Linked DNA regions of Homo sapiens. Each later gene encodes a partner of the first gene's protein in a complex. Each region holds a gene or a part of one and is shown in the gene's direction. Other genes may lie near its edges. The genes, in order: TMEM231 and TMEM17.

The links.
Region 2: TMEM231 (region 1) and TMEM17 share a complex: the UniProt entries of both Homo sapiens proteins name them as parts of the tectonic-like complex.

What each region holds. Positions count from the first base shown.
Region 1 is NC_000016.10:75,546,048-75,549,872, reverse strand, and holds part of TMEM231 (transmembrane protein 231), read left to right. Parts: intron 1-3,795; exon of another isoform or gene 3,796-3,825. UniProt on the Homo sapiens protein: Transmembrane component of the tectonic-like complex, a complex localized at the transition zone of primary cilia and acting as a barrier that prevents diffusion of transmembrane proteins between the cilia and plasma membranes.
Region 2 is NC_000002.12:62,499,451-62,503,253, reverse strand, and holds the end of TMEM17 (transmembrane protein 17), read left to right. Parts: intron 1-459; coding exon 460-563; intron 564-703; coding exon 704-817; intron 818-1,766; coding exon 1,767-2,045; 3' UTR 2,046-3,036; downstream 3,037-3,803. UniProt on the Homo sapiens protein: Transmembrane component of the tectonic-like complex, a complex localized at the transition zone of primary cilia and acting as a barrier that prevents diffusion of transmembrane proteins between the cilia and plasma membranes.

The sequences.
Region 1 (3,825 bases):
GCTGGGCGTAGTGGCGCACACCTGTAATCCCAGCTAGTCAGGAAGCTGAGGCAGGAGAATCACTCGAACCTGGGAGGTGGAGGTTGCGGTGAGTGGCGATTGTGCCACTGCACTCCAGCCTGGGCAACAGAGTAAGACTTCGTCTCAAAAAAAAAACAAAAAAATTCCCTCTGACTCTGCTCAGTACATGCGTGTGGATTTCATGTGTATCTCTAAAGGGTTATCCTCCTTTAACCATGAGAAATCTTTTCAGTTAGAGTTCTTATGAGCTATTATAGAAGAGCCCTGAATCAGGAGTCAGCAAACCAAGATCCTTGTCCCACAAGGTCCTAGTCCCAATTCTGTCACTGGGTTTCATAACCTCACCCTCAATTTATCTATCCATATACAGGGCATGAGAGTACCCACATCTCTCCTGGGATATGCAGAGGAATCACGTGGGACAATGAATGGATATAAAAATTGTTCCAAAGCCTGTATATACGTTGTAGATATAAGGTGGTGGTGTGATATGTGAATTCTCTTGGCTAAGTACCAGTTGGAGGTTAGATAGCGACCTAGAATTTGTGTTAAAGAAGTAGTAGCCTTTGAATGCCTGCCTTTGTTAGCTATTGCACATATGTTAAACTTACTTTCAACTAAATGGAATTAAATAATTGATTTATTCAGTGGTCCAAGTGATAACAGAGGAGCACAGCCAAACTTCGCCAGCCCCAGGAGGGTGAGAGTCCAGCTTGGTGACAGGTCATTTGTGGGAGACACATCCTTTCCATCGAAACTTCTCTCCCCCCTCTCTCCACCCTGCTCTCCTTCTCACCCACTCTGCCAGATGCATTGATCCCACGGGTACCCAGAGCACATGTACCTGATTAGCCTGGATCCCTCCTCTCTGAGATGTTCCTGCACCCCATCACTTCACTTCCTTCAGGACTCCAACAAGTTGGGTCATCCTGAATATTTAAAAATTTCTGTTAAATTCTTTTTGGGTTTTTTTGTTGTTTGTTTGAGATAGAGTCTTGCTCTGTCACCAGGCTGGAGTGCAGAGGCACGATCTCGGCTCACTGCAACCTCCACCTTCTGGGTTCAAGCGATTCTCCTGCCTCAGCCTCCCTAGTAGCTGGGATTACAGGTGCACGCCACCATGCCTAGCTAATTTTTGTATTTTTAATAGAGGCAGGGTATCGCCATGTTGCCCAGGCTGCTCTCGAACTCCTGAGCCCAAGCAATCCACCCACCTGGGCCTCCCAAAGTGCTGGGATTATAGGCATAAGCCACCACGCCTGGCCAATTTCTGTTAAATTTTACCTTCATTATTCTCTAATTTTAGCCTGCTTCATTTCTGTCAGCGGCACTTGTCACTGTTTTCTACATTGTCCATCGGGAATGTATGCCCCATTAGGATGGGGACTTTGTCTATTTTGTTTACCATTATAGTCTCATTATTTGAAATAGTGCCTGGCGTGTTTCCAAAAAGTACGTAACAGATCAATGAGTGAATTTAACAAGTAGACACTATTGATGGTGTTGTGCCAAATCTGTCCCCCGCGAACTTGGAATGGAAGGATGTGCACAGGCAAGTATACAGACGTAGATGCCTGGTGCTGCTGTTTTTCAGGAAGATTTGTCCAACCTGCTGTCTTCATTTGGAATTTTTAAAATAATTTTAGACATTTTGGTCCTAAAAAGAGGACCAGATTTGAAGTCACCTGATCTCAAATCCTGTCTTCACCATTACTTGCTGTACCTCTGATAAATGCCCTAATCTCACTCATCCTTGATTTTGTCATCTGTGTAATGGGAAAATACCTGTTCTGCCTGCCTGGGGCTTTACATTTATTGTAAAGATCAAAGGAAATGAGCTTTTCCCCCTCCCACAGTGTGTTGGAGTCTGGATTCTTCTGGCAGTTGTCTCCTGGCCACTATCCTCTGTTGCAAGTTGAGAAATGTGCTCTTTTCTTCCTGTCCAACCCTAAAGATCTAGAAGGTGTGGATCCATCACAGAGAGTTACATAAGATTTTCTACCCAGATCCCAATTGAAGAAAATCCACAGGAGACAAGGCAGGCTCTTTTATTTATTTTTTATTTTATTTTTTTGAGATGGAGTCTCGCTCTGTCACCAGGCTGGAGTGCAGTGGCAAGATCTTGGCTCACTGCAACCTCCAACTCCCTGGTTCAAGCGATTCTCCTGCCTCAGCCTCCTGAGTAGCTGGGATTACAGGCACGTGCCACCACTCCCAGCTAATTTTTGTATTTTTAGTAGAGACGGGGTTTCACCATGTTGGCCAGGATGGTCTCGATCTTCTGACCTCATGATCCGCAAGGCAGGCTCTTTTCATCCTACCTATAATGACTAGTCCATCATTGCCTCAGTAACTTGATCATCAGCCCTGGTAGCAGATATCCCTCCCCGAAGCTGATGAAACAGGGCAGAGAGGAAGTATCCAAGAGAAAAGGGAGGGAGGTTTCTCTAAAACAAGACCTAAGAGAAGGAACATTATTGTCTAGAAAGAAAGAAATAATTGAAAGTTTCTGAAAATTGAGATTTCTTCATTTCAAATGACCTTATTATTAGCCTGAAAAAGCACACACACAAAAAATCTCTTCCTTACGTAATAGTAATGGTGGGAATCAAAATGAATCCATAGATGGTGGATCCAGATGGGAATGCTGCTACACGATAGTAGAATTGTTCTGGGAATCCACAGTGGGAAAGGATCAGTTGTAGCAAAAAGATCCAGAGTTGTGCAGAGGGACCATGTCAGCAGTGATCACTTTTCAGTAACCGTGCTTTCCTGATCATCATTTTAGCATCACTGTTTGGCAAGACTGTGGATGGTAGGAGTGGATACCAGTTTTTTTTCACTGCCTACATATGCTTCATAAGCTGTATTTTGTCTTTTTTCCTCTACAGACCTCTGTCTTCTTTCCTTTCATGCCCGTAATTTATCAAATAGATATGGTTTTAATACTTTGCTGATTTGACATAGCTTCCTTTTTCATTTCATTGATTGCTACTAAAAGATGCACAAGGCTTTCAGGTCCTCACACGAATGATGAGATAAGATCCAACATCAAGAATCTGAAGCAAAGACACTCGTGGTTTCAGAATCTATAAACAGAGTTTGGTAAGGCCGGGTGCGGTGGCTCACGCCTATAATCCTAGCACTTTGGGAGCCTGAGGTGGGCGGATCACCCGAGGTCAGGAGTTCAAGATCAGCCTGGCCAACATGGTGAGACCCAGTCTCTACTAAAAATAAAAAAATTAGCTGGGCATGGTGGTGGGCACTTGTAATCCCAGCTCCTCAGGAGGCTGAGGCAGGACAATTCCTTGACCCTGGGAGGCGGAGGTTGTAGTGAGCCGTGATTGCGTCACTGCACTCCAGCCTGGGCGATAGAGTTAGACCCCGGCTCAAAAAAAAACAAAAAAAAATAGAGCTTGGTGATTTTCTGTTGAGTTTGAGTTTGTTGGAGGAATGCATAATGATTAGGATTAGGTGTTTTTCTATTTTAACAAGTTGACTTCTAGAGACATAGAAGACTATTCTGACATGCTACTTAAAATTTCCATACAAATTCAGGCATATTTGTAAAAAAGAAAAAAATATCAGTGCAAAATAAGCAAGATCACATGAGACAACTGAAAGGCACAAATACTATCCAGATGTTTTTTGTTATTGCCCATTTATTTTGGCCAGTGAACATTTGAAAGGCCCAGATATGAAGTTCAGGGACCATGCACTTTGTGTCTCTCCCCAGTATTAATGCACTTACATCTATCTGCTTTTCTCTTTTAGTGGAGGAGATAATGCCTGTTGTGTACAGCA
Region 2 (3,803 bases), on another chromosome or scaffold:
GAAAAGAGAGATGTGTCTAATTATAACCTTGGTAATCCGTTTTTGTATAAGATTAGTTTATCTGTGGGAGATTCATTTTTATTTATTTTATGCATTAATTTTATATGCTATTTACATAGAATTCTACAAAAGAGGCAATGATAATTATCTGTTGAATAGGATTTATGTTGATATTCTACATTAAATCTATACCAGTAGTATATGCCAAAAAGTCAGAAGACTGTAATGGCAAAATGGTAAAATAATTGAAAAATATGAAACGTACCCCCAAATAGCCAATATTTGACCTAACTGGTATTAGGATGAATATTCCTTTTACTGTCAATGATTATAAATAGGCATAAAATTTGGTGTTTTACTGAGCCAATATTATAGTTATTAATTCTAGGGAATAGGATATATATATATAGGGCATAAACCCAAGATTCATCATTTGTTCCTTTTCTGTTCCTTCTGTAGAAAATGAAATGGTCTCCAGTTTGGCACTGCAGATGTCACTTTATTTTAATACCTACTATTTCCCACTGTGGTGGGTGAGCAGCATTATGATGCTTCACATGAAGGTAAATCTAAGCTTTAATACTTTTGCTGCCCTGACGTTGTTAGAGTGTCAATAAAATTCAAGTTCTTAATAATTTTTTCTATCTTAAATCAATGTTACTATACATGAGATTTTACAAACATGTTTTGGCTTTTCTTTTAGTATTCAATCTTACCTGACTACTACAAATTCATTGTGATCACTGTTATCATCCTAATAACCTTAATTGAAGCCATCCGGTTGTATCTGGGCTACGTGGGTAACCTACAGGAGAAGGTAAGCTCTTTTTTCCTTTCTCTCAGTGATAGATATAAATGAAATCAGTTTTCATAACAAGTAAAAGGCAGTGAGGTGTGGCAGAAAGAGCACAGGCCTGAATTTAAAGCCTGACTCCAGCTTTACCACTTCTGTCACTGTGGTCTGTTTGCTTAATCTCTTGAGCCCTGGTTTCCTCATATATAAAATGAGGAAAATAATATTTACTTCACAGGTTTGTTGTGATTAAGTGAAATGATTTATGTAAAGTATATGAATGTAGTAAACACTTAAAATTGATATTTTCCCTCTTCTTATCAGTCTTGAAAATACATGGTTACTTAAACATGTGTATTTGGATCCTGAATAAGAAAATGGGGGAAAATTATGAATTCATTTCCTATGCCAGGCCCATGTTTTCTGCATCATCATGCTGCCTAAGCATTTGTGGTTACCAGAGTATAGGGATAATGCCTAAAGATTCCCGTGGTTTTCTAGGCCCTTCATAATAAGGCCCCACCCAGCCTGTCTTACTGTAGGTTTTGCTGTTTTCTCACTCAGCCATCCATTCCAGGCTGATGTGCTGATTCCCAATCATGCTAATTTCACGTGTTTGCTTACTTACCTTTTTGCCTCTTCCTTCTTCTCCACAACTTAAAAAGCCTACCTCCCTGAGGTCTTTCTTTCACCTACCCTAATCACTCCCTTATTTCTTGTAGCATTTAGTCTGTACTTCTAAATATTGCACTTAATTGTTCACTAAAGTGTAGTATTCTAGGATTGTTTTACATGAATTAGTTTTCTCATCTAGACTGTAAGTTCTCTGAGGACAAGGACCATGTCATCCTCCTTTGGAATCACTCACAGAGCCCATAATGTAGGTTCACGGTAGTGATAAGTACTTGTTTATCTGTATAAACAGAAACTGTATTTTACTGATTTTTATTACTCTTGATATGTGTCATTGCAGGTTCCTGAGTTGGCTGGCTTTTGGCTTTTGAGCCTTCTATTGCAGTTACCTTTAATTCTTTTCTTGCTCTTTAATGAAGGCCTAACAAATCTGCCCTTGGAAAAAGCGATACATATCATCTTCACTCTCTTCCTTGCTTTCCAAGTTGTTGCAGCATTTCTTACCTTAAGGAAAATGGTTAATCAGTTGGCAGTTCGTTTCCACCTCCAAGACTTTGACCGGCTCTCTGCAAACAGAGGAGACATGAGAAGGATGAGGTCATGTATAGAAGAGATCTGATCCAGTGTTGTTGAGTGAAAATCTGACAGATCATTCTAGAGACTGTAAGAGTTAGGAAAATATCAGAGCTCTGAGAAAAGGGACAAAGCAAGTGTTTTGAATTGTATATGCTCTCACTCTGAAATTCCAAGGTTGGGGGCAATGATGAAACTTTGTACAGTATATGAAACAGTATATTAACCCTAAAACCTAGATGTTGTCCACCTGATGCCAAATTTCTTAATTTTTTTTGATGTTGTTGTCTTTTTCAGGAGTGTAGAAATCTATGTATTGGTGGTTGTCATTTGCCAGCTCTCTCGTAGCATTTCTGGTTAGAATCTTTAACTAGAGATGTATACATTTCTTTAAAACTTGTTGGTTATCCATGTCTTGTCTGTACATATGACCATGTTTCTTGACATGGAAATACCAGTCAGTGTTCCTATGTATTTGTCTATATTTGTAAACCAAGAGACCGGCTGGGTGTGGTGGCTCACGCCTGTAATCCCAGCACTTTGGGAGGCCGAGGTGGGCAGATCATGAGGTCAGAAGATCGAGACCATCCTGGCTAACACGGTGAAACCCAGCCTCTACTAAAAATACAAAAAAAAAAAAAATTAGCTAGGCGTGGTTGCAGGCACCTGTAGTCCCAGCTACTTGGGAGGCTGAGGCAGGAGAATGGTGTGAACCCAGGAGGCAGAGCTTGCAGTGAGCCGAGATCAAGCCACTGTACTCCATCCTGGGTGACAGAGCAAGACTCCATCTCAAAAAAATAAATAAATAAAAAATAAAACAAGAGACCAAATTTTCATGTCTGCTAGGGTTAAATTCTAACCCTAATATTAGCTGTTATACTGAGATGAAGAAGAAAACAGGTGGATTGCCTTGGTATTTAGGAAATATTTTTGTTATAAAATTACAACTTTCATAAAACCATATTCAGTATTTGTAATGGTGGTATACAAAATGCTTTTACAATAAATTATTAAATATTTAAGGTATCAGCAGCAAATCATCCTTGTCTTGTGCAATTATTTTGGGCTATAGATTTGTGTTTTTTATTACAGAGTTGCAAGAGAAGGAAGGAAAACAAATCCTAGAGAACTTTCTATGTAGTGGGCACTGTAGTAGGCATTTTAAATTAGCACTTGTGATTGCATCTACTAGGTTCTTGTTCACCAAAGAACTGCTTCATACCCATTAAATTCACGTGAGGCTTGATTTGGAAACCAGAGCGCCTCTTAATACATATGAGAGCTAAGATGGCCAAAGGGACTATACTCATGATCCTAAATGAGCATGCTCCCTTGCTAATAGGAGAAATCTATTTTAGGAGAATTGGTTAAGAACAAAGTTGCTTGGGTGTATCTGAACATTATATTTAAGTGACTGTTGGACTGTCTTAATGGATATGATATGTTCATTACAGGTTTTCTTTTTTTCTATAGGGAAATGGGCCTTCATAATGTATTTTACTGAGGGACAGTTGTAGCTGCATTAAAAACTGCTCTTTTCAATTTTCTTTTTCTACAATTCATGCTTATCTTAGGATTCCCAGGTTTTGCCTTATTCATTGTTGTTTGGCTGAACTTCAAAAAATGTCTTTACTTCCCACTCATTCTTGATTCTTCCTGACCAAACTATGCTAATTTTATTATTTCTGCTCTTTATGATTATATATAAAGTTCAGCCAAATATTTCTCCCTCCATGCAGTGGCTGATTAATCTTTCTCATGCCAAAGTAGTCACCAGTTTTACTCTTAATAATTTGGAATTTAA